Homo sapiens: one gene and its partners. The protein of the gene in region 3 interacts with the protein of the main gene of each other region in a pairwise test. Each region holds a gene or a part of one and is shown on either strand. Other genes may lie near its edges.

Region 1 (7,031 bases), on a different chromosome or scaffold from region 3:
AAAATATCCATTATGTATCGGGAGTAATCATTTTTGTTTTCATATTTCCAAGCCTTTGAACCAGGGTAAAGCATATATTTTTATGTGACCATTGAAATAGTTCCTCCATCATCATATGGCAAAAATAAATTTTAGGATTAGCACTGAATTTAAAAAATAAATTCAAAATAGACATTTACTGAAGGACCGAGTGTCGTCACTGAAACGATAGGGTTTACTTCAGCACCTGGACTCTCTCCCCTGTGACTCGTGAAGCATGAACTGGTAGCACTCCCTCCTCGTTTGAAGGGCTTTGCTCTAAGTTGAGAAACGAGGGCATTGCAGCAGCAGGCAAGCCGCCTCTCCCTGGTAGGCGGGGCAGCAGGTTGCGTAACCAGTATTTGTACGGGGAGGACTGAAGCCTGGTCTCCGTCTCCTCTCTTGCTCTTCCTGTCTTCAGGTTAAATGGAATATTTTTCTGAAAAACCTTGAATTTTGTAGTGTTCAGTCTTATGACGAATTGAAAAGCTGGCACGAAGAGGTCCTGTGTGTCTCACCCATGTCCCCTGGCCGACGCTCCCCTCCCCGGGAACAGCTCTCACAGCTGTGGCGCTGAGCTGGGGGCATGACTGTTGGCTCCAGGTTTTATTTGGCTGTCCTGGTTTTTCGATGACTGTCCCCTGCTGTCCCAGCACCCTGCCTTGCGTTTAGCCATCATGTCTGCCATCTCCAATCTGGGACCGTCTCTCAGGCTTTCCTTGTGTTTTTGGGACCTTGACGGTTTGAGGACGACTGACTGGTCAGGGATTTTGTCAGATGTCTCTTAATTGGGGTGTGGGTTTTTGGGAAGAAAACCCAGATGTGAGGCGTGTGTCATCTCGGGGAGCTGGACGCGCACCTGCCCCGCCACATGGCGCTGGCTGCGGTCCCCGGGCTGCGTGGGGCTGATGAGCTCCATCCGCAGGGAGCTGCTTCTCCCCTTTTCGTGTTCTATCCACACGGTTTATGTTTAAAAACCCTCTTTTCCTATTTGCCATTTTATGGTTAAATCCTTGTTGAAAAATGACACTTGATCATTAGGCCTTTGGATATAATTTTATTTTCTCCCAGTAATGAGCAGTCCCACTGTCTTTAACGGACACCTAAAGAGTGCAGAGCAAGGAGATGGAGCGCTGGACGCCTTCAAATACCGGGACAACCAGGATCCAGAGCAGCGAGGGACCCACAGTGCTCCCTCAGAGGCCTCTGGACCCCACGCCCACACGTCCCTGTGACCACCCACACCCTCCCCCGACTGGCTTCTCCATGCTGCTGTCTCCGGGACATGAGTCGCCTGTCTGTCCCCCACGTGTGGCCAGGAGGGCATGAGCCACCTGTCTGTCCCCTACGTGTGCCCAGGAGGGCACGAGCCGCCTGTCTGTCTGCCATGTGTGCCCAGGAGATACGGTGCTTTTCCTGCCATGTCCTCAGAGCTGTGCATGTGGCACACAGGAAGCAGTTGTCACAAATAAACAGGAATTTGGCCTGTGTATGTTAGTCCTGAGAACTTGGTTAGCACGAGTCTGTTTCTGCAAGATAACCCGTTCCTGGTGAGCAGACAGAGCTAGTCATAGAGCCTGCTGGCATGGGCTGTGCCAGGGCCCTGTGGGGTTGGCAGGGAAGCACGTCCTGTGTGGCCAGGTGTCCCCCGGGGAGAGAGCTCTGGGCTGTGAATCCTTCTGGGAGGCAGGCGAAGGGCCCTGGCCTTCTGTACCCCAGTGTTTCCTGTGTGCCAACAGGAACAGGTGCTTAGCATCTCGTGCCATGGGGCCTCTCAGCGCCCTCCTGAGCCAGAGCTTGCTGTTGAGCTGTACAGCGCCTCGAGAGAGGCTGCCTGGGGGAGGCTGGCCTGGGACTCCTGGCATGGGCCCACTCCGCTCAGGCACCTCTGCACCCTCCTCGATTGTCCGTAAGGGCAGGGGGTCCCTCCGGGCCCTGGCCTATGCCACACCCTCCGGAGGTGAAGCCGGGGTGCTCTGCTTGTTCTCGCAGTACGGCTTCTCTCACAGGGCAAAGGTCACTCGTGACGTGTCCCAGTCAAAAACGGGGTAAAGTGTGGGGAAACGCACAAAGTGTGTTTTGCTTTTTAGAGAAGAGCGGTTGAGCACACGCCATGCTGGCTGCTCAGGTTGGGGTGCAGCCTGCAGAGAGCTTCCCGAACTTGGGGGTCCTGAGTCCGTAACTGCTCGAAGCGGTGCCTGGATCGTCCGGGTCCCTTCTGTTTACTCACATTGGTTGTGGAGCGCTGACTGGCTTGTGCGCTCCAGGCCTTAGATGGGGACACAGGTGAGGAGCTAGACCCTCTCGGGGTCCTTTGAAGTGCCAGGCGCCCAGAGCACAGCAGGTGCAGGGCTTAACTCAGAACCTCCTGGAGCCCTGCCTGGCACCGTGTCATTGGGAGTCCATGGCACAGGCAGGTACGGGTTTCTGGTGTGCATGGCAGAGGCGTTCTGGCGGCCTCAGCACGTGCACTTTGCCTAAGCTCACGTCCGACACACCGAGGGTTCCAGGTTCCACTCGGTATTTCCTGAAAACAACTGCCCAGGGCACTGGCGCTGACCGGGGCCCCTGCAGACGGCTGGGTCTCCACCCCACTCCACCAGCAACCAGGCCTCCACCCCACTCCACCAGCAACCAGGCCTCCACCCCACTCCACCAGCAACCAGGCCTCCACCCCACTCCACCAGCAACCAGGCCTCCACCCCACTCCACCAGCAACCAGGCCTCCACCCCACTCCACCAGCAACCAGGCCTCCACCCCACTCCACCAGCAACCAGGCCTCCACCCCACTCCACCAGCAACCAGGCCTCCACCCCACTCCTCCATCAACCAGGCCTCCACCCCACTCCACCAGCAACCAGGCCTCCACCCCACTCCACCAGCAACCAGGCCTCCACCCCACTCCTCCAGCAACCAGGCCTCCACCCCACTCCACCAGCAACCAGGCCTCCACCCCACTCCACCAGCAACCAGGCCTCCATCCCACTCCTCCAGCAACCAGGCCTCCACCAGCAACCAGGCCTCCACCCCACTCCACCAGCAACCAGGCCTCCACCCCACTCCTCCAGCAACCAGGCCTCCACCCCACTCCACCAGCAGCCAGACCCATGCTCAGGGCCTCATCAGCGACCTTTCACCTGTGGAGCATGGTTTACCCCAGGCCCCTTCGGCCGCTGCAGGTGTGCGGGTGGTTTCGGGATGGCATTGTCCTGCCTGGGCCCATCCTCTCTCTTCCCCTCAGAAGTGGCAGTGGTGGACAGAGGGTCGAGGAGACATAGGATGCAGAGTGGGGAGGTCTTTCGTGGTTGTTTGGAATCGATTTACTTCCTGCGTTCTTCTGGGATACTTTTGAATTTCAGCTGTTTCATGTGGAAACATTTGAAGTATATCAGCAGAGGGTTTTCCAAATCACTTTAGACCTGAGGCTCAGCTTTTGTCTCATTCGTTTGACCAAGTGACCTGCAGTTCAGTGGCCCTGCCTTTAGCTGTGGACAAGGAGAAAGAAGCCGTGGGCACACATGGTGCAAGGGAGACCCTTTAAAATGACCTGAAAACCCACCTGAGCAGGCTTTGAGGACAGGAACCCATTTTTAGCGGCAGAAACCTGCATTTGGGGATCTCCTGAGTGAGGGCTGCACCTGTACCGCTGGGGGCCAGGCCCCAGGCTGGACACCCTTGACCCCTCCGTTTAGAGATGAGGAAACTGAGGCTGAGCACAGTCCAGGACTTGATAAGGACATGGGTGGGGGCGGGGCCGCGGGAATGCCGGGGGCAGCTGCTGTCGGGCTGCTTTGTGCCCCCACCCTGACTCACTGGCCTCTCTGGTCCCCGGCCCCGCAGGTGTACATCGGTGAGCTCCCGCAGGACTTCCTCCGCATCACGCCCACACAGCAGCAGCGGCAGGTCCAGCTGGACGCCCAGGCGGCCCAGCAGCTGCAGTACGGAGGCGCAGTGGGCACCGTGGGCCGACTGAACATCACGGTGGTACAGGTGGGCCTTGGGGCACCCTCCTGCCTGCCTGGGGCTGGTGCGCTCGGTGGGGGTGGGATTTCGGATTTCGGCGTTTATACTGCATTTCCTAAGCGGGCAAACAGAACTTCTGATTCCCGCTTTTCCTGAAACCTGTGTGATGTTGAAAACGATCTGTGTGAAAGATATTGGCATTGACCCCGGGTTCTACCAAACATAACTCAAGTGATGAGTAGTGGGTGTAGGTGGGCGTCTGCTCTGTGTAGGGCCTGGCTCTTCCACCAGGCTTGAGTACGCCCAAGGACACCTCCCGGACCCCCGCCGGCAGCTGGAGGAGGCGCGGCCGGCACCCCCGCCACCTGGTGTGTGCTGCGTGAGTGGCTTCCTGTTGGCCTCAGTGCCGGTGCCTGCACCCTCCCTCCCCACAGAGCAGCCCTCGGTCAGCCTCGGGGCCGGCCCGTGGTTGCTTAGTGGTCTTTCAAGTGAAAGCCAAAATCGGCAGATTGAACGCCGATTTTGATCACACGAAAACCGTCTGTAAGACTGCAGGAAAAGGAAACACACTGTGAGCCACGCAGGCTTTCGTAGAAATGCAGGGAAAGGAGACACACTGTGAGCCACGCAGGCTTTCGTAGAAATGCAGGGAAAGGAGACACACCGTGAGCCACGCGGGCTTTCGTAGAAATGCAGGGAAAGGAGACACACCGTGAGCCACGCGGGCTTTCGTAGAAATGCAGGGAAAGGAGACACACCGTGAGCCACCCGGGCTTTCGTAGAAATGCAGGGAAAGGAGACACACCGTGAGCCACGCGGGCTTTCGTAGAAATGCAGGAAAAGGAGACACACCGTGAGCCACGCGGGCTTTCGTAGAAATGCAGGAAAAGGAGACACACCGTGAGCCACGCGGGCTTTCGTAGAAATGCAGGGAAAGGAGACACACCGTGAGCCACGCGGGCTTTCGTAGAAATGCAGGGAAAGGAGACACACCGTGAGCCACGCGGGCTTTCGTAGAAATGCAGGGAAAGGAGACACACCGTGAGCCACGCGGGCTTTCGTAGAAATGCAGGGAAAGGAGACACACCGTGAGCCACGCGGGCTTTCGTAGAAATGCAGGGAAAGGAGACACACCGTGAGCCACGCGGGCTTTCGTAGAAATGCAGGGAAAGGAGACACACTGTGAGCCACGCGGGCTTTCGTAGAAATGCAGGGAAAGGAGACACACTGTGAGCCACGCGGCTTTCGTAGAAATGCAGGGAAAGGAGACACACTGAGCCATGCGGGCTTTCGTAGAAATGCAGGGAAAGGAGACACACCGTGAGCCACGCGGGCTTTCGTAGAAATGCAGGGAAAGGAGACACACTGTGAGCCACGCGGGCTTTCGTAGAAATGCAGGGAAAGGAGACACACTGTGAGCCACGCGGGCTTTCGTAGAAATGCAGGGAAAGGAGACACACTGTGAGCCACACGGCTTTCATAGAAATGCAGGGAAAGGAGACACACTGAGCCATGCGGGCTTTTGTAGAAATGCAGGGAAAGGAGACACACTGTGAGCCACGCGGGCTTTCGTAGAAATGCAGGGAAAGGAGACACACTGTGAGCCACGCGGCTTTCATAGAAATGCACAAATACAGCAGGCAGAAGAATCGCCGTGGACCTCACAAATAAGACTTGCTTTCAGGGGCTTCATGGTGTGGTGAGCACAGCTACACCGTCACCCCTTCCTCGCGGCGTGTCTCAGACCCTTGCTTGTGCAGCTGTTACTGTGCTGGTGTGGCCGATCCCTCTGCCCACCCAGTGAACTCCCGTAAGCCCATGCATTCCTGTGCCAGCTGCCACCAGGCCAGCCAGTGCCATCACCCGTCCTCAGCCGCCACCTCCTGGCAGGGCCTGGTGACCGCAGGGCACTCCACCTCACACAGTTCAAGCTCCAGAGCTGGCTGGGCCTTGGAGGTGGCCCTGGCGTTGCCCACGCCTCTGGCCCCCCTTGGTCCTCTCCCGCACCCTGGAGCCCACCACAGGCAGCCTGTTTCCTCCACGTGAGCTCACCCAGCCTTCTGTGGCGCAGCTCCAGTGGTGGGAAACATTCCTGCCTCCTCACTGGGCCAGGTAGCTCAGCCCCTGTTTCCTGCTTCTCTTGGCTTCTGGGCGGCCACACAGGTGGTTCCCTGCTTGCGTCCCCTCGCTGCTTCCCCTTGTTGTCTCCTGGGGCCCCAGTGGGATGCCAAGGGGTCTGGTCCTCAGCCCTCCTCCCCTCTCTGCCCACACATCCCGGTGACTTCTGCATCCCTGTGGGTCTAAACACCCATGTGCTGGCCCCAGCCTGAGCCGACCACTCAGCTCCACCCCAGATCCCTAGGTACGGACCATGGCCACATGGCCTCCCCAGGTGTTCCGTGGGCACTCCGGACTCCGTGTGCCCAAGGTGGAGCTCTCGGGCCACCCTCCCGGCTTCTCCCCCGTGTCCGCAGGTGGCTGCCCCACACTCTGGAAGCTGAGGCCCAAAGCCCTCGTGCTGCTGGTGCTCCAGGTTCATGTCCACCTCTTGCCCTTCAGGCCTGACCCTCAGCACAGGCGCCACCTTCAGCCCGTCCAGGCCTGGAGCCCCCCGCACCCACCCACTGCCCCCGCTCAGCCCCTGCAGCGTGGCCAGAGTAGGTCCGTTCCCGCGTGGGCCTTTCTCGTGGGCACTGTCCTGCCGAGCCTGCTCCAGCTGGGCCCATGTTTTCCTCACCCTAGTCACTCCTGACCTTCCTCTTCCCTGGCCGTTCTCCTCCCGCTTCCTGCAGCTCTTCCTCCAGATCCTGCAGCCCGCATACCCGGTCCTCCTAGCTGGTCACTCCCTGCAGTGGTAACGCCGTCTGCTGCGCTGTGTGTCTGCCGCGCATCTCTTGCCCATTGTGGGGAAAGCAGCGGTGCCCGTGTGTCCCCACGGTGTCTGCTGTCTGACGTGCGTCTCTTGCCCGTTGTGGGGGAGGCAGCGGTGCCCGTGTGTCCCCACGGTGTCCACAGTGTCTCCTGCACCAGAACAGCATGTGGTTGTGTG
Region 2 (7,031 bases), on a different chromosome or scaffold from region 3:
TGTAAAATAAAGTATGTGTACAAGATGATTTCCCTTGTAATCCACCCACCTCGGCCTCCCAAAGTGCTGGGATTACAGGTGTGAGGCACCGCACCCGGCCAAGTTCTAAGTTACCTTCTAAAAGTTATAAGTCCAGTTCACTGTCCTTAAGGTGCATGCAATCTATGTGGGGAGACAAATGGGCGAAAAGTTTTTTTTAAAGAAGCGTGCATTTTTAAAGAAGTGTGAGAGTATTACATGAATATACTTAATGTTTATTCATTGAACTAACATTTATTAAGCAGCTGCTACATCCCAGGCACTGTTTTAACCCTAAGAGATATAATAGTGAACAACAACAACAAAAAACCCTTGCTGTCATGGAACTAATATTGAATGGAAAGAGACATCTAATAAATCAACAACTATAATTGTGTGGTGATAAGGGCTAAAAAGAAAAAGCAGGGAAAGGGAGAGATGGAAAGGGAGAGAATGAAGATGGTTACGGAAGGGCTTTAAGATAGATGGCCTATGAGTGAAGTGAGGTAATGGGCCATTCAGATGCTTTCGGAAAGAGGGTTCAGGTAGAGGAGGTGAGGGTGCACAGGCATTGAGAAAGACTGCTTGGTTTGTTTGGAAACAGGAGACCAATGTATTAATAGCTGGAGCAGAGAGAGCAAGGGCAGGTAGTCTTAGGAGATGGTATCAGTGGTTTAGAAATATCTATAGGCCCTATGTAAATACACACTTTAAAAATCTTAGCCGGGCGCAGTGGCTCACGCCTGTAATCCCAGCACTTTGGGAGACTGAGGCGGGTGGATCGCCTGAGATCAGGAGTTCGAGACCAGCCTGGCCAACATAGTGAAACCCGTCTCTACTAAAAATACAAAAAATTAGCCAGGCGTGGTGGCAGGCGCCTGTAATCCCAGCTACTAGGGAGGCTGAGGCAGGAGAATCACTTGAACTCGGGAGGCGGAGGTTGCAGTTAGCTGAGGTTGCGCCATTGCACTCCAGGCTGGGCAACAAGAGCGAAAATCTGTCTCAAAAAAATAAAAAAAATCTTATCGTAGCCAGTGTTTTGGGTATGTGGGTTTGTCTTAAAGTACACGTCTTTTTTTTCTTTTTTTTTGAGATGGAGTCTCACTGTTGCCCAGGCTGGAGTGCAGTGGCTTGATCTCAGCTCACTGCAACCTCTGCCTCCTGGGTTCAAGCAATTCTTATGCCTCAGCCTCCTGAGTAGCTGGGATTACAGGCATGTGCCACCACACCCCGCTAATTTTTGTATTTATAGTAGAGATGAGGTTTCACCATGTTGGCCAGGCTGGTCTCGAACTCCTGACCTCAGGTGATCGCCTGCGTTGGCCTCCCAAAGTGCTGAGATTACAGGCATGAGCCACTGCACCTGGCCTGTTTTCTTAACACGTTTTCTAACTCCTTTTGTGAAGCCTTCCCTGACAGCTTAGTTCACACCATTCCGATCCTACTCTTGCCTCTTGGTATATTGATGCTTAATTGTGTGTCATCTTTTATTGTCCCTTAATTGTTTTATTATTCTTGTTTCACTGCTAAGATTGTAAGCTTCTAAAAGATAGGAACTATATTTCCTTTGTATTTATCCTTCGTAATACCTAACAGTTTTGGGTACTTGGTAAGTGCTCAATGCCTGTTAAATTGAAATTGAAATTTACCTTTTACAGATAGTTAAGGATTAAGAAAAATTGTGAAATTCCAGAGTGAGGGTATCATCACAGAATTTTCCAGGCACTTTGAATGTCAAAGGATTAACCGCTTTTTATAGAATAAGTTCATTTACTGGGGTCATTCCCAAGGCTGCTTACTAAATGGAGCTGTAGTGCTAAGCGTTAGATTCCAAAGTTGAATCTTGTTAAGTTGTACCACTAAGCTTTTGGAGTAAATCATCACTTACCAAAATGGAGTTTAGGAAACGCCAGAGAGTCTGTGATGCTTTTGTTATAATCCTTAGGCTCAGAAGGAACCCTAGGAGAAAGAGAGGAAGGGTCGGTGCTTTCAAAGGCAGTATACAGAAACTTGATGTAGGTGGAAGAGGAGTCAGTGCAGCCCTGGAAAGAGTACAGAAATAGAGAAACGTGAACCAGAGAGTAGGAGGGAAGTGACAAACTCAACTGGAAAGCTGATGTACAGTTTGAGAAATGTAGTTAAAGAGAGTACTTGGAAATACTGTACTCAAAGTTTGTGGGAAGTTAAATGAGTTAAATATAGGGCTATTAGAGGTTCATTTCACTTTAAGTTTAATATGTATGAAATTTACGCTCTATACAATGTAGTGGGGAATGAATTCTTTTGGTCAGCTTTTCTAGTGAACAATTTGATTCATAAAAATTTTATTTTTGTGCAGTTTTCTAAGAGTTTAGCTGCTGTATAAGGTAAGATGTACCTTATTACTTATAGCTTTCAGCAGAATTCTTTGTGTCAGTGAAATGTTGATATGGTATAATTATTATATGGCCAAGTAACCGCTTCTCACCATAGAGTCATAAATCCAGTTTAGCCAAGTGGGTTCAGCAGTTATTCCTATTAGCAGCTGATTCTAGTAGTAAGATGACTTTCTTTCAGGTTTCAGGGAAGGGGTTCCAGATAGCCTGAAGTTGCTTTGTAGATGCTGTGTTTATTGAAGTAGTTTATCTTCCCATTTGCTTATTTATGGGCTTATTTCCTCATAGGTGGATGTCTCTTTGTGCCCTCATTTGGTATTTGGTGCTGAAACTAAGCATGGTGCTACCATTCAAGAAGAGTTATAAAAATATTGTGTTTTTTTTTTCTTGCAAGTAATTTCATGAACAATATTTCACTGAAATTACTGAATTTTTCATCTCTCCCTGTCCCAGTGTCCTTGGGCTGCCACAGCAAAATACCATAGACTGGGTGGCTTAAACAACAGACATTTATTTCTCACAGTTTTGGAGGCTGGGAAGTCCAAGATGAAGGTGCCAGCAGATTTCATGTCTGGTGAGGGCCCACCTTCTGGCTTGTGGATAGCTGTCTTCTTGCTGTGTGTTCACATGGCCTTTCCTTTGTCTGTGCCCTGGGGGAGAGAGAGTCAGTGGTCTCTTCCTCTTCTTATAAGGGCACTCATTTATCATGTAGTTCCCACCCTCATGACCCAATCTGAAGCTAATTCTAGAGGTCCTACCTCCAAATACCATTACACTGGGGTTAGGGCTTCAACATACGAAATTTAGAGGGACACAGACATTAAGCCTGTAACACTACCAGAGTGGTAAATATTGTAGATGGAGAAACTGAGGAACAGTCATGTAAAACTTGTTGCTTTTTTCCCCATGTCTTACAAGGAAGTCTGCAGATGTAAAACTGGAAATGTATTTGAGAAGGAGAAAGTCAGATCTGATTTCAAAGTAGAATTATTCTTCAGGGTGACTCAAGAGATTAGCTTGAGTTGAGTTTGTCTCCCAACTCCCTCCCATTTTCTAGCTACTCTGTCATTTTTTTTTCACTATCACGCTGACATGTGAACACAACAGAAGCTAACTAGAAATTTAACTTTCATTTTGCTGTAAAGCAGACTGGTGCAGACAGGCCTCAAGTTTACAGGACTGCTGAGAAAGAAATTGAGTTATGCTACTTTGTATAAACAAGAATGTTGCTAGTGAATCTCTAGTTTAACATCTCTCAGGCCTTCAGTTTGATGTCAGGCTTTAATAATTTGTAGAAAAAGACAGTCATTTTAGTAAGCAGATTTCTTTGAATTTTTGTTGATATACATTTGTAAAGCATAGTAAACATCTTTATTCTGGGGCAAATGTGCACTTCCTTCAAAGGCAGGAGGGAAGAACCACAGACATGATTGGAAGGAAATGGCAGTAATTGGAGCATGAGCAGACAGATGGAGTGAGGGATGGTGAGTACATTTGGTGTTTTAGGTGGCCCCTAGGAGTATTGAGTTTCTTCTTATTCTCCTCTACAACCCCAATACAAGCAGGCAGCTTACATGGCTAAGGTTTCATTATCTAATCCATCACAGATCAGCTTGAATAAACCCATTGGCTGATGCTGATCTAGTTAGGAAAGTAGCAAAGCTGCTTGAGCCAGGATTGGGACAAATCGGATCAGAACTGCCATGTGAATCCTGGACGCATTTCTGTAATTTGGGTGGGCAAAGTAGTTTGGGAAGTCATTTACTCAAGAGAATGAGCAGTCAGCCATGAGTTTTTTCAAACATTGTCTTAGGGACTCTGAGGGGAAAGTGTGTGGAGGATTTGAGATATTTCTCTGGAGGATAGCCAGATTGCTTTGATTATTTGAGTCTGAACATTTTTTGGTCACTAATGCTCAGAAGTGACCTTTTTTTTTTTAGTAGCATTTGGAGATTCCAGTTGTGATCGTTTGTCACTTTTGTGAGTGATCCCTTAATCTGAGACCGTAGGATATATGTCCCTTCTCTGTTTTTATTTTATTTTTATTTTTTATTTTTATTATACTTCAAGTTCTAGGGTACGTGTGCACAACGTGCGGGTTTGTTATGTATGTATACATGTGCCATGTTGGTGTGGCTGCACCCATTAACTCGTCATTTACATCAGGTGTATTTCCTAATGTTATCCCTCCCCCCTCCCCCCACCCCAGGACAGGCCCCATTGTGTGATGTTCCCCACCCTGTGTCCAAGTGTTCTCATTGTTTAATTCTCACCTATGAGTGAGAACATGCAGTGTTTGGTTTTCTGTCCTTGTGATAGTTTGCTCAGAATGATGGTTTCCAGCTTCATCCATGTTCCTACAAAGGACGTGAACTCATCCTTTTTTAGGGCTGCATGGTATTCCATGGTGTATATGTGCCACATTTTCTTAATCCAATTTATCATTGATGGGCATTTGGGTTGGTTCCAAGTCTTTGCTATTGTGAATAGTGCTGCAGTAAACATACGTGTGCATGTGTCTTTATAGCAGCATGATTTATAATCCTTTGGATATATACCCAGTAATGGGATGGCTGCGTCAAATGGTATTTCTAATTCTAGATCCTTGAGGAATCGCCACACTGTCTTCCACAATGGTTGAACTAGTTTACAGTCCCACCAACAGTGTAAAAGTGTTCCTATTTCTCCACATCCTCTCCAGCACCTGTTGTTTCCTGACTTTTTAATGATCGCCATTCTAACTGTTGTGAGATGGTATCTCATTGTGGTTTTGATTTGCATTTCTCTGATGACCAGTGATGATGAGCATTTTTTCATGTGTCTGTTGGCTGCGTAAATTTCTTTTGAGAAGTGTCTGTTCATATCCTTTGCCCACTTTTTGGTGGGATTGTTTGATTTTTTCTTGTAAATTTGTTTGAGTTCATTGTAGATTCTGGATATTAGCCCTTTGTCAGATAGGTAGATTGTAAAAATTTTCTCCCATTCTGTAGGTTGCCTGTTCACTCTGATGGTGGTTTCTTTTGCTGTGCAGAAGCTCTTTAGTTTAATTAGATCCCATTTGTCAATTTTGGCTTTTGTTGCCATTGCTTTTGGTGTTTTAGTCATGAAGTCCTTGCCCATGCCTATGTCCTGAATGGTATTGCCTAGGTTTTCTTCTAGGGTTTTTATGCTTTTAGGTCTAACATTTAAATCTTTAATCCGTCTTGAATTAATTTTTGTATAAGGTGTAAGGAAGGGATCCAGTTTCAGCTTTCTGCATATGGCTAGCCAGTTTTCCCAGCACCGTTTATTAGATAGGGAATCCTTTCCCCATTTCTTGTTTTTTGTCAGGTTTGTCAAAGATCAGGTGGTTGTAGATGTGTGGTATTATTTCTGAGGGCTCTGTTCTGTTCCATTGGTCTATATCTCTGTCTTGGTACCAGTACCATGCTGTTTTGGTTACTATAGCCTTGTAGTATAATTTGAAGTCAGGTAGCGTGATGCCCCCAGCTTTGTTCTTTTGGCTTAGGATTGTCTTGGCAATGTGGGCTCTTTTTTGGTTCTATATGAACTTCAAAGTAGTTTTTTCCAATTCTGTGAAGAAAGTCATTGGTAGCTTGATGGGGATGGCATTGAATCTATAGTTTACCTTGGGCAGTATGGCCATTTTCATGATATTGATTCTTCCTATCCATGAGTCCCTTCTCTGTTTTTAAAGGGGAGATATTTTTATTACTAACCTTAATATGTAATCATATTTGTTATCCATATATACTTGAAATATGGTGTAGTAAATAAACACCATTTAGAGCTTCTCATTTTGGGATTTGAATCCTGGCTTCTCCATTTACCAAATGAATGAGCTATTCAACATCTCTGAGCTCCTGCTCACACATCTGTGAACTGGGAGAATTAATGTATACTCTTATAAACCACTGTAATGAGAACTGAGATTCTTTAAGGTGCCTATCAAGGAACCCAGCACTACATGTTTATTTCTTGCTTTCCTTATATCCTGCTATACAGCACTCACTAACTTCCTGCTTACTGTTTAATCTGCATGGAGTGGTTAATGTGCTTCTGATTGATTAAGTGCCAGAGTTGGGAACTACTAGAGATGAGCAGTGTGTTAAAGGGGAAACCTCATTTGCTCATTATCCAGGGTGGAGGAGTGGAATGAACTGGGTCATTGTGGTCTCTCTTGTCAGAGGAAGGGGAGACAATTCTTTGCTAAGGAGTGAAAGGACTGCTGCAGTATCACAGTGTCTGCAGGGGGGATGTGGATTTCTTAGAACCCGTGGGATCTCTGTTGGGAGGGTGGGTGACAGATTCACTGGCTGTTTTAGTGGTACATGGAAGGCAGGAACAGTAAAAATGTCGTGTTTCAAATTTTATAAGTTTTGTTACGTATGTTGGTTCAAAAGTGGCACTTTTTGTTCTCATTTTGTCTATGGAAATTGAGCTGGGATGCCTTTGTGTTGTCTCTTGTGGTCCCTTTTCAGTCTCTTCAAACCCGCTCTCCAGACTGCTAACACAGTGATCTATCTAAAAGAGCCAATCTGGCCAGGTGCGGTGGCTCATGCCTGTAATCCCAGCACTTTGGGAGGCTGAGGCGGGCAGATGACTTGAGGTCAGAAGTTCGAGACCAGCCTGGCCAAC
Region 3 (4,549 bases):
TAGAGCTGCAGCAAGAACCCAGACCACCTTATTTTTAATCAGATCTCTTTCTGTTATACCACATAGGAAAGGTGGAACAACAGGTTATAATAATATGATGATAGGAGATAATATAGAATAATAGTAGAAAACATTTCTGTGTGCTTACTCTGGCTGGGCATTGTGGAAGGCCACTTACATATGTTATTTATCCCTCTCATCAATTCTGTGATATAATATTATCATCTTATAGAGAATAATAATGATACTACAGAGCTTAAGTAAAATGCCCAGGGGGAAACAGCTGGGAAGTGGTGCATCTGGGATTGGAAGCCAGATTGCCCTAACTGTGGCATCCCAGTGCACCACCGCTGAATTAAACTTGACAAAGCATGGGCTCTGGAGGCAGACAAATTTGGCTTCAGATCCTGTTCCTCTGATTAGCTTTGCACCATGGATAAGTTTCCTCTTCTTTCAATGAAGATGCTAGAACCTCACTATTAGGATTCATTTGAGCATCAAACAAAATCATCCAAGGACATTATTTTATTGCTTGTCACATAGTAAAGGCATACAAGACGTTAGCTGCTAATAAAAAGGGAATGAAAGTTTTAAAGGGTACTGTCTCCAGTAATGTTCTCCATCAGAAAAAATTGTAACTTGTTCTCCACCCAGCCCCTTGAACTAGTCCCATTGTATGCTACCTAAACAATGTGTTGTTCAAGGTCAGTAAATGACATCCTAACTATAATTCTACGAATTTGAATTTCTTAAGGTCCAAGAACTCTGCTTTGAAGTTCAGGATCTAGGTTACCAGAGCTAGACAACATCTTGACCTATAATTCTAACAGGTACTTATCAGATACATGAAAACAAATGCCAACTGAGTATAGGAGATCTCATTTTCTACATAAAGGAAACATATATGGCTAAAAATGTCTTTTGATGGTGTAAAAATTTTATGAATCTGATAACCACGGGGAGGGATAATGGAAGTATGATTTCAATCTCCCCTCCTCCCCTTTTACCTTTCTTTGCCTATTTCTGAGTATCTCTAGGCTACCAAATGTTTCAGTCTGAATGTAGAAAAAACAAAATAATGAGCAGGAATAGACCGACTGGCACAAAATGTACCAAATGGAAACAATTTCCAGACGGAATGTACACTGACATGCGCGACTTACTGTAAATAATTATACAAAGCACAATACAATGAGAACAAGAGCAAAAAAAAAAAAAAAAAAAAAAAAGGAAAATCTCAATCGGAGAAGAAAAAAGAATCCACTTGGCCAAGAGGCATGCATTAATGCATAGTGAATTCATGGACTTTCCTTATTCCCACCAAGGCTTGTGGCTTCAGGGGTATGAATAAACCTCCTTCTCCTTGCAAAACCCTCACACCAAATGCAATTGCGTGGCTGAAGCTTGACACCCACAATTGTGAAGAGAGAAGTGGGGAATGAAAAGCAGCAGACAGCCTGACAGAAAGTTCATGCTCACCCAAGAAAATGGAATTTTCCTTCAGGCTGAAAACATAATCATTATGAAACTGGCCATCAAATAATTTTCAGAGAAAATACTGTTGTAACCATCACTCCTTATCTGCAGGCATTGCAATCACTTCACAGGATGACCACAATGTTCATGATCACTTTTTAAAAACTTTTTGGTATATTTTTTCTTTTCTTTTGTTGTGGTAAACCATATAAAAATTTGCCATTTTAGCCATTAAATAAGTGTATAATTTCATGGCATTATTTACACTTACACTTTTACAAGAAAATTACTTTAAAGAAGTCTTCCATAGCAAGAAAAAACTTAATGAATTTTTAAGAGTGGGCATGGCTTCCTTCCCGATACCATTTTGGTTTTGCTGTTTTCCACCCTGGCAGTAACTTGAAACACACTATTCTCTCATTAGGGACTCACACCACCCCATCCTGCACATGTACCTGGTATCAATGGGGGCAGAGAGGAGATGAGTATGGGGTGTTGGGGGTGGGGGTGGAAGAGAATGTCTGGGTCGGTGTAAGCCTGCCATGGGCACATGGGAAAATTCTGTGACATGCACAGCCCCCAGATGGTGACTCAAGATTACTGCATGAGACGAGAGTCCGTGACATTCGGTTTGAATGGCATTTCTTAACAATTTTTATTGAGAACTTACTGACCCCATGTGACACACAAAACAAATGTACATACCCTTCACATATTTATAGAAACATTTTTACAAGTGCCCTAAAAATGGGTCAATGATGTACTTTTCTTTAAAACGTTTAATAGACATTTGATGAACTACTTTTGATGGGGTGCTATGCAAAATATGAATCTGGCTCAAAGACACTCTGGCAAAAAGTGGCACAGAGGCTATCCCTTAGACATTGGGGAATGTGAAAGAAGGCACGATAACAAAAGGGAATGGGCCAAATTCAGCCTGGCCAGCGGGTGGCATAGGTGGAAGAAGCATGAGTGGAAGGGGCAAGGACGGAGGAGGAAAGGGTGGCATGGGGAAACACAGGCTGCTGGAATGGCTGTGGTCCCAGAAGTAATCATCTCTCATCCCGCTGATGAACAAGGGTGCCGTTATGGCCTCAGCTGCGGTTACCATGACAGGCTGGCCCACTGCCATGAAGGGCAGCATGTTTCTTGCCATTAATGCCCTCTGATGTCTCCTCCATTTGGCTCTTCTATTCTCAAACCAAATCTTCAATCAGAGGAAAAAAGAAACAGGTTTAGTATACTGAGCATTTAATTTCATCATGGAAAAAAACACAACAAGCAACTCTCTATGTCCTTAACCTTTTCGGGTGTATCAAGACAAGCTACTTCCTTACTACTAAAATATCTTAGAAAGGTGACCACCACACCTTTCCCCTAGTGAGCTCCAAGTATGTGCTACGTACGCTCTGGCTTGGCTTATTTCTTTGTCTCTCTCCTTTTATCTGTAATATTACTTTTTCCACTCTTGGGTGCAGGTGTAGCTGATGAGTGGGACTCGATCCCTGCTGGTATTGCTATGTGTGGCATGTCTGCTTGCAGATACTTGACCATCAGCTACCCAGCTGCCCACCAACTCCTACTTACTAGGCCACTGTCACCCTGGTCGTGGGGGAAGCTGAGCTTGGAAAAAAAGGCGGGGGTGCCTTTTAAAGTCATACCAAGAAGATGAGGCCCCCGTTTTGAAAAGCCCATCTTCAGTGTAAAGTAAAAAATCGGTAAGAGTACATTGTATTTTAAAACAAGTTTTCTTTCCTTCAAGAAATTCTAAGGGGTCATTCATCTTCTGAAACTCCTTGAGAATTAAAAAGATGGTATATTGCAAGGCAAGTCTCGTTATAGGGGGCCCAGGGAGTTTGTGGATTGTCTTGCTGGGAAATGAGGGTATCTGAAGCCCTGGACACTCTTCACACTTCAGCTTGAAGCTTTGTGGAAGGAGGACACAAATGTTGTCCAAATTCACAAAAATTCTCAAAAAGCTTTGCCCAGTTGAGAGTTTGAGAGAAAGGAAGCATTGCTAATTCTGCACGCTCCAACTCATCCCTCCCTCCAAATCTTCCTGGGCTAAGGACAAGGTCAGCTCACTTTGTTCTCCCTATAGTCCTGGGATATGGGACAGAGACTTGGTTGCCCAGTTCCATGGGACGCCTTCAGCCATCTAGCCTCACTACTCGAGCAGAAGATCCCAATCTCATCAGCATTCCCAAAGCGGGAGTGTCCAAATAGGCAACTCTGAACACGTTCAGTAGTAATGTGGAGGAGGTATCAAAAAACACTACTCCCCAAACACCTGCCAATTGTTAAAAGACCAAAAAATAAAACCTGTCAATTAAACAACACTATCCCCCAAGCTTCTAGTTAATGACATTTCCATTGTATTTTGATCCTTCTGGAAGTTCCCAAACTGCAAATTTTATGGGACAAAGGGACTCTTCTCCCTGTTTGATGCCCCATTTCCTTCTCCCATCTTACTATTTGGAGTCCTTCTCCCTCATGAATACATAGTCTAAATTTTAAGCCTACCGTAATAGTGCTTGTTTAGAGACAATTCCAATGTACCTGTGGTCAAAGGTTCATAAACATAAGCAATGCCAAAAGTGGGCCAAATGTGCTATGGGACAACATTAGGTCCCTAGTCTCCGTATCGGTTTCATAAACCAGCCCTTACTATCTTTACAAAACAGAGGGGGGAAACATCTATTAAAAATTTTTGGAGATATTCATGCTGAAATGTTTGGCAATAGATGAGAACATCATGCCTTTTTCCTTATTTGCTGAGTGAGAGTGGTCCTTTTGCCTTCAGAACTGCATTGAGTGAATGCTATGTAAACCCAGGGAGGGGAAAGGCAATTCACCAAAACGTCAATATTTCATCTCCCCCAAATTGGCATTGCCTGCCTGAGAAAATGGAGGGCAACAGGATGCCAACACTCAGTGCCCCGTTTTGTCAGGCAGCTTTTCTGCATGCCACCATTGACAGAACCGCAGCATAGTTCCCTCACTGCACTCACACACATGAGCTCTGCAGAAAAGCTATTAAGGTCATCCCGATTTTTCTTTCTTTTCTTCCTTT
Region 4 (7,388 bases), on a different chromosome or scaffold from region 3:
GAGCTCTAGTTCAGAGATCCAGGCTCAATTTATACCCTGGGCTCTAGCCCAGAAATCGAGGCTCAGTAAAGTGTATACAACGGGATCTATCTGAGGGGTCCAGGCTTAGTACCTAGTCTGAGCTTTTAACATAGGGATCCAATCTGAACATCTGGTCTGGGCTCTGGCCCAGATAGCCTGCCGAAGGATCCAGCCTTCGGGTGGGTCAGTCACATTCAGATTTCTTTTTCTTTTTTTTTTTTTTTTGAGACTGAGTTTCACTCTTGTCACCCAGGCTGGAATGCAGTGGCATGATTTCAGCTCAGTGCAACCTCTACCTCCCAGGTTCATGCCATTCTCATGCCTCAGCCTCCCAAGCAGCTGGAATTACAGGCGCCTGCGACCACGCCCAGCTAATTATTGTATTTTTAGTAGAGATGGGGTATCACCATGTTGGCCAGGCTGGTCTCGAACTTCTGACCTCAGGTGATCCACCTGCCTTGGCCTCCCAAAGTGCTAGGATTATAGGCGTGAGCCACTGCACCCAGCCTATACCCAGATTTCTATCAGGGACGGATACTACCGCCTTTCAGAAGCCCGATTCTAGCCAGACTTCCTCACCAGGATATAGTCGGCCCCCCAGTTCCTGGCAAAGGTGAGGGCTTCCTGCTTCAGCTCCATCAGAAACTGGTGCCTTTCTTTGGTCCAGTGCTTGGGACCCTCTTCATCTGGGTAGAACCTGAGGGGATAGAGGTGAGATGTTCCCATGGGGTACATGCCCCTCCCTCTCTGCAGGGCAGTGGACAGAGCCCTGGCTTGGAGGCTGTGGCTCTGGGCTGTCCCTTTTCCTCTCTGGGCTGCAGCTGTTCTCCATCTTCCCCAGCACCCTTCCCCTCAGATCACCACCTGGGCTCGCCCTCAGGCCTCCAGACCACAGCAGCATAGTCATCGCCCACAGCCGCCAGCCACTCCTGCAGCATCTCTGTGGTGTTGTCCACATTGTGGTCCGTGGCACACCTGGGGACGGGAAGAAAAAAGGCTGAGGGGGCACAGCCACAGGATTGAACCCCAAGGCAGCCTTGACCCCAAAGCACTAACACCTTTGAGGTCGAGCTCTCCTTGGAACAGTGAAGGGTAGGTGTGCTACAGCAGAGAGGCTGGAGGCAGCACAGCCAGGTCCCCACCACAGTTCTGTGACCTGCTGTGTGACCTCAGGCAAGTCCCATCTTTCTCTGGGCTTCACGTCCTCCCTCTATAACTTAAGCTGTCCTGCTTATGTCATGGACAAAGATAAGAGAAGAATAATGCATTTTTTTTGAGATGGAATCTTGCTCTGTCGCCCAGGCTGTAGTGCAGTGGTATGATCTCGACTCACTGCAACCTCCGCCTCCCGGGTTCAAGTGATTCTCCTGCCTCAGCCTCCTGAGTACCTGGGATTACAGGTGTGCACCACCATGCCCGGCTAATTTTTGTTTGTTTAGTAGAGATGGGGTTTCACCATGTTAGCCAGGCTGGTCTTGAACTCCTCACCTCAGGTGATCTGCCCACTTCGGCCTCCCAAAGTGCTGAAATTACAGGCGTGAGCCACCACACCTGGCCAACGAATGCATTTTGAAAGATGAAAAGTACCTCGACTTTAAGGATCACACCTGGTGCATTCCCTGGTTACCTTCGTTAGGTGGGCAGATACCTACCTATGTGACCTGTGGCTGTGTGACCACAGGCCAGCCCCTGTCCCTCTCTGAATGGGGACTAGACAGAAGAGCTGCTGCTTTCCTCCACCCCCAGGTTGTAATAAGGACCAAACCATGCTCTAAGCGTCCCTAAGAATGCAGATGGGTCCAAGCTCTGCTGTCATGGGGCACAGCCTCCCCTCTCCTGGGGAAGGGGCCCCCATAACAGAGGTGGGGGTTTAGCCAAGTGCCCAGGTTTTGGGTGATGCTGCCCCTTTAAGCCAATTCCCCAGAAATGAAGACTACGTGTCAAGTCTTACAGGGGTGGGAACTAACAAACTCCCAAACTGTGGTAATTGTGGGCGGCCTCCCCAGGCCAGGGCTCCACCCCCCCAGCCCAACTGTGGTGTGTTGAAGAGGGTGGCTTGTCATTTTTCTCAGTTTACCCCCAACCTCAGCCAGGGACTCCTCCCTGTTCTGGTGTCTACAGACCAGGGGTTGTGGCCTTCGATCCCAGTGCCCTGGGGGTACAGAGATGCCAGAGGGGAGAGGCTCCAGGAAGGGGGACTGCCCTTGGCTGACAGGATCCCGCCCCTCTACCAAGATCTACCAAGAGAGCTGGCCCCAGCACGGGGGCGGTGGGGGGGCCGGTCTGACTCCCCTGCACAGCCCGGAGCCCAGTGCTGATGGCACCCCCAACCTGTGCCCGGAAGCCTCCAGCGTGGTCGATCCCTGCCACGTTGGGCCCCAGTGGACTTCAGAGGTTCCTGTCTGCTCCTCTTCAAATCCAGCCAACCACAGGTCCCACTGGGGTTGAGCTGGGCCCTGAAGGCTGGGGTGAAAAGGGCTGGCTGGGCCCAACCTACACCCAGGGAAGGCCCCAAGAGGAAGGAGTAGGGGACCAGAAGGAGGGGTGGGTGTCCCGCGTCGGCCTGTGGCCTCAGAGGTCTGTCGTCTCCCAGCAGGGGGCTCGGGGTCCTCTCTGGCGGCTCGGGCTGGCAGGGCCGTCTGTGAGGGGAGGGGCCTGTCTAGGTGGTGTCTGGGCAGGGAGCGAGCAGACAGGGCCGCCGGGGGCGGGGGCCATCTGCGAAGCTGGGGGTTAGGTGCCCACTCGGTGCCAATGCCCGGGTCTCTCACCAGAGGGCCATCCTGGCCCGGGGGTAGTCCAGCCGCTCCAGAGCGCCCAGGTAGTGGGGCAGCGAGTGTTCGGCATTGCGGGCCAGGATGGCAAGGACCACGGCGGGCAGCGGCGACTCCGCAACGCCCGCAGCCTCCAGCCACGGCCCCAGCAGGAGCAGCAGCTGGAGCAGCGGCGCGGCGCGGGCAGCGCGCATGGCGGGCGCTTGGGCGGCTGCAGCGGCCCCCGGAGCTCTCGGGCCGGCCGAGGGGAGGGGGCGGGGCCTGGGGCCCGGGCGGGGCCGAGGCAGACCCGGAGAGGGCGGGGCAGTGCACCCTCAGAGTGGGATCCTGCTCCCCACCCCTGTGCGTGGATGCTCAAGTTTTCTCTCCTTGGCCCGGGGCACCGGAGGGCCAGGGCCCGGGGACCCGCGCCAGCCGCGACCCTGGAGCAGCCCCGCCCGGCTGGACCCCGGAGGGGCGACGGCGGAGGGGCCGGAGGACCGGACAGGGGAGGGGTGCTAGGACGAGTGCGTCGGGGCCGGCCGGGCGTCCGAGAACAGTAGGGGCTCATGGAACCCCTGGGCGTTGAACCCCCGGAATCCGGATTCCCCGGCCCACGCAGCCGACTCTTCGACCTGAGCCGCAGACCCAGAGGGGCGGCGCCCACTCGGCCACCACCTCCCGGGCTTCCCCGGCTCCCGCCCCATCCTCCGCCCCGGGCGCCCTCTGGCGGCCCTGGCGCTAGCTCCGCAGACCAGCCGGGCCACGCGTGGGCCGGAGACCCAGCGTGGGGGGCGCAGAGGGAGTCCCCCTGAGCTGGGCGCGTCCTCCCGCGGCGGTCCGCTCCTTAAGTCCCCTGTGCGTCACCTCCTTGCGTCGGTCGCCAGCACCCGCATTGCTTCGGCCCTTTAAGAGAGCACAGCCAGGCCGGGCGTGGTAGCTCACGCCTGTAATCCCGGCACTTTGGGAGACCGAGGCGGGAGGATCACCTGAGATCAGTTCAAGACCAGCCTGGCCAAGATGGTGAAATCCCATCTGTACTAAAAATACAAAAATTAGCCGGGCGTCGTGGCGGGTGCCTGTACTCCCAGCTACTTGGGAGGCTGAGGCAGGAGAATCGCTTGAACCCGGGAGGCGGAGGTTGCAGTGAGCCGAGATCGCGCCACTGCACTACAGCCTGGATGACAGACCGAGACTCCGTCTCAAAAAGAAAAAAAAAAAAAGAGCACAGCCCTCACAGCCCTCTCTTGGTCTGAGTGTAGAACTAGGGGACACCACGGAGCTGCTCACTGCGACCCGACCCGTCCGTCCTCCAAAGCAGGGGATGTTGGCTCCCCTGGAGCACCGCCGGGGTCCTTAGGACCCTGCTGGGAGGGAAAGAACTCTGCAGCCTCTCGGGAGAGGAGCAGAAAAGGGAGCGGCCTGGCGGCACCACAGATGGGATCGAACTGGGTGTCTGTCACCAACCTCAGACAGGTCCCTTTCCCTCAGGAGCCTCTCGGGTAAAATCGGGCTGATAACGCCACCCATCTGGGAGGGTTTGCAGGGATTCCTCGAGAGAATGAATGCACTGGCAGCTTTTCCCGCGTGGAGGCTTACACACAGGAAGAGCTCCGCCCTGGGGCTGGGAAGACAGGACTGGAGGAGAGGGAGGCTCCCCCTTCACCCTCCCACCGCTGGGAAGATCTCCTTTCCTAGGAACAGCACGGGGTCTCCCTTCAGCCTTTTCCCAGGGTCAGGGAGGGGAGCCAGGGCTGTGCACACTATCTCCACTGCAAGGGGAGGGCTGAAGGTCCATAGAGGAAGGAACTTACCTAGTGCAGGGGCAGCACGTGCGCACTGAACCCTGGAGTCCTGATCTCTAGCCTAGCTCAAAGCCTCCACCAGGATCGGGTGGCAGCTTCCATTTGAGGCCATTTCTAGGCCAGCGGCCCTGCAATGAGAAGCATTCTGGAGAGATGCCAGATTTCTTCTCCCTTGCACGGTAGTCCCCTGCGGGAAGCCACTCCCAGCCCCAGAAGAGGGATTCCCTTTCTAAAGCAAAGCAGTGTTCCCTACTTCACCCACCCCAGAGTCATTCCACAGCCTCTGCCTGTCCTATTGGTCCAAGGGTGCTATGGTCAGAATGTCCGTGACCCTCAAAACTCACATGTTGAAAACCTAATGTTAATGTCAGGGTATTAAGAAGCGGGGCCGGCACGGCGCGGTGGCTCGCGCTTGTAATCCCAGCACTTTGGGAGGCGGAGGCGGGCGGATCACGAGGTCAGGAGATCAAGACCATCCTGGCTAACACGGCGAAACCCTGTCTCTACTAAAAAATAGAAAAAAATAGCCGGGCGTGGTGGCGGGCGCCTGTAGTCCCAGCTACTCAGGAGGCTGAGGCAGGAGAATGGCGTGAACCCAGGAGGCGGAGCTTGTAGCGAGCCGAGATCGCGCCACTGCACTCCAGCCTGGGCGACGGAGCGAGACTTCTGTCTCAAAAAAAAAAAAACAAAAAACAAAAAACAAAAAAAAAAACAGGCGGGGCCTTTGGGAGTTGATTGGGTGGGCTGCCCCACCTGAATGCGGCTAGTGCCCTTATAAAAGAGGCCTGGGGGCCGGATGCGGTGGCTCACGCCTGTAATCCCAACACTTTGGGAGGCTGAGGGGGGTGGATCATGAGGTCAAGAGATCAAGACCATCCTGGCCAACATAGTGAAACCCCATCTTTACTAAAAATACAAAAATCAGCTGGGTGTGGTGTCGCGTGCCTGTAGTCCCAGCTACTCAGGAGGCTGAGGCAAGAGAATCGCTTGAACCCAGGAGGCAGAGGTTGCAGTGAGCCAAGATCATGCCACTGTACTCTAGCCTGGCAACAGAGCGAGACTCCGTCTCAAAAAGAAAAAAGAGGCCTGGGGAGCTTGTCAACCCCTTCTGCCACATGAAGACACAGCTAGAAGGCCCCAGGTATGAGGAACGGGCCCTTACCAGACACCAAATCTGCTGACGCCTTGACCTTGGACCTCCCAACCCCCCAGAACTATTAGCAATAAATTTCTTTTTTTTTTTTGGCCAGGGGTTGGGGGGTGGTTCAAGCAATTCTCCTGCTTCAGTCTCCTGAGTAGCTGGGATTACAGCCACACACCACTATGCTTGGCTAATTTTTTGTATTTTTAGTAGAGATGGGTTTTCACTACGTTGGTCAGGCTGGTCTCGAATTCCTGACCTCAGGTGATCCAGCTGCCTCAGCCTCCCAAAATGCTGGGATTACAGGTGTGAGCCACTGCACCCGGCTGATAAATTTCTGTTGTTTATACATTATGCAGTCTAAGATATGTTGTTATAGCAGCCCAAACGGACTAAGACAGGGGGCTTCCTGATTCTTCCCTGGCCTCAAGTCCTCCTCTTCCCCCAAGTCCTCCCACCCTCCCCAGGAGTCCAGCCTGTTACTAACTTTCTTGCCTCAGAGTTTTCCCATCACACCTGCCTGGAAAACCCAATAGCCATCTTGTTTTGGGGCAGGTTGGGGCAACTGCAAACTCAGGGTCTCTACCCTCACTTGGGCTCTCACCCAGCCCAAGAATCCTGTTTCCCTGTGTCCCCTGCCCACTCCCCTCAGGGCATTTCAAATGCTTCTAGTCATTGAGGCACGGTGGCTCATGCCTGTAATCCCAGGACTTCGGGAGGCTGAGGTGGGCAGATCACTTGAGGCCAGGAGTTCGAGACCAGCCTAGGAAACACAGTGAAACCCTGTCTCTATTAAAAATACAAAAAAAGGCCGGGGCAGTGGCTCACACCTGTAATCCCAGCACTTTGGGAGGCTGAGGCAAGTGGATCACCTGAGGTCGGCAGCTCAAGACCAGCCTGACCAACATGAAGAAACCCCGTCTGTACTAAAAACACAAAATTAGCTGGGCATGGTGGCGTGTGTCTGTAATCCCAGCTACTCAGGAGGCTGAGGCAGGAGAATCACTTGAACCCAGGGGGGCAGAGGTTGCAGTGAGCCGAGATCGCGCCATTGCATTCCAGCCTGGGCAACAAAGGCGAAACTCCGTCTCAAAAAAAAAAAAATAGTAATAATACAAAAAAAAATTAGCCAGGTGTGGTGGCACATGCCTGTAGCCCCAGCCACTTGGGATTCTGAGGCAGAAGAATCACTTGAACCTAGGAGGTGGGAGTTGCAGTGACCTGAGATCACGCCACTGCACTACAGCCTGGGTGACAGAGTGAGATTCTGTCTCAACAAAACAAAACAAAACAAAACAAAACAAAGCCTCCAGTCTTCTCAAGCCCCCATTCCACCGCCCCTCTCCCCCAGCAAAGATCTCTCTACTACTTTTTGGAGAAAATAGAAGCCATTACCTGGGAACTCTCATTTCTAGCCTCCAAACCTTCCACCTCTGCCCTCAGCCAGCCTCAGGAGGCACACCCCTCCTCAACAGAACGGCCCCTGTGAAACCGCCTTTGCAAATTTGTAACTCAGGAAATTATGACAGCGGAACAAATCAGACCTAACTGATTCTGTCTTGCTTCTAACCCTTAAGCTGTCCTTGTTCACTCCTGGGCGTAGGCTGAACTAACTTTGGGAAGGAATTCAGTTCATGGTTTGACTCTGAAACAAAATTTATAACAGCCCTT

Evidence for each region.
Region 1: the proteins of RHOXF2 (region 3) and TOLLIP interact in binary tests that used the Homo sapiens proteins (3 or more experiments, as listed by UniProt).
Region 2: the proteins of RHOXF2 (region 3) and RBFOX2 interact in binary tests that used the Homo sapiens proteins (3 or more experiments, as listed by UniProt).
Region 4: the proteins of RHOXF2 (region 3) and CERCAM interact in binary tests that used the Homo sapiens proteins (3 or more experiments, as listed by UniProt).

The regions. Positions count from the first base shown.
Region 1 is NC_000011.10:1,292,623-1,299,653, reverse strand, and holds part of TOLLIP (toll-interacting protein), read left to right. Parts: intron 1-1,089; exon of another isoform or gene 1,090-3,126; coding exon of another isoform or gene 3,127-3,198; intron 3,199-3,859; coding exon 3,860-4,009; intron 4,010-7,031. UniProt on the Homo sapiens protein: Component of the signaling pathway of IL-1 and Toll-like receptors. Inhibits cell activation by microbial products. Recruits IRAK1 to the IL-1 receptor complex. Inhibits IRAK1 phosphorylation and kinase activity.
Region 2 is NC_000022.11:36,018,816-36,025,846, reverse strand, and holds part of RBFOX2 (RNA binding protein fox-1 homolog 2), read left to right. Parts: intron 1-7,031. UniProt on the Homo sapiens protein: RNA-binding protein that regulates alternative splicing events by binding to 5'-UGCAUGU-3' elements. Prevents binding of U2AF2 to the 3'-splice site.
Region 3 is NC_000023.11:120,161,592-120,166,140, reverse strand, and holds the end of RHOXF2 (rhox homeobox family member 2), read right to left. Parts: intron 2,684-4,549; coding exon 2,354-2,683; 3' UTR 511-2,353; downstream 1-510. UniProt on the Homo sapiens protein: Transcription factor maybe involved in reproductive processes. Modulates expression of target genes encoding proteins involved in processes relevant to spermatogenesis.
Region 4 is NC_000009.12:128,416,476-128,423,863, reverse strand, and holds the start of CERCAM (inactive glycosyltransferase 25 family member 3 isoform a precursor), read right to left. Parts: upstream 3,008-7,388; 5' UTR 2,987-3,007; coding exon 2,790-2,986; intron 2,661-2,789; exon of another isoform or gene 2,353-2,660; intron 2,342-2,352; exon of another isoform or gene 1,078-2,341; intron 997-1,077; coding exon 886-996; intron 719-885; coding exon 601-718; intron 1-600. UniProt on the Homo sapiens protein: Probable cell adhesion protein involved in leukocyte transmigration across the blood-brain barrier. Does not express any beta-galactosyltransferase activity in vitro.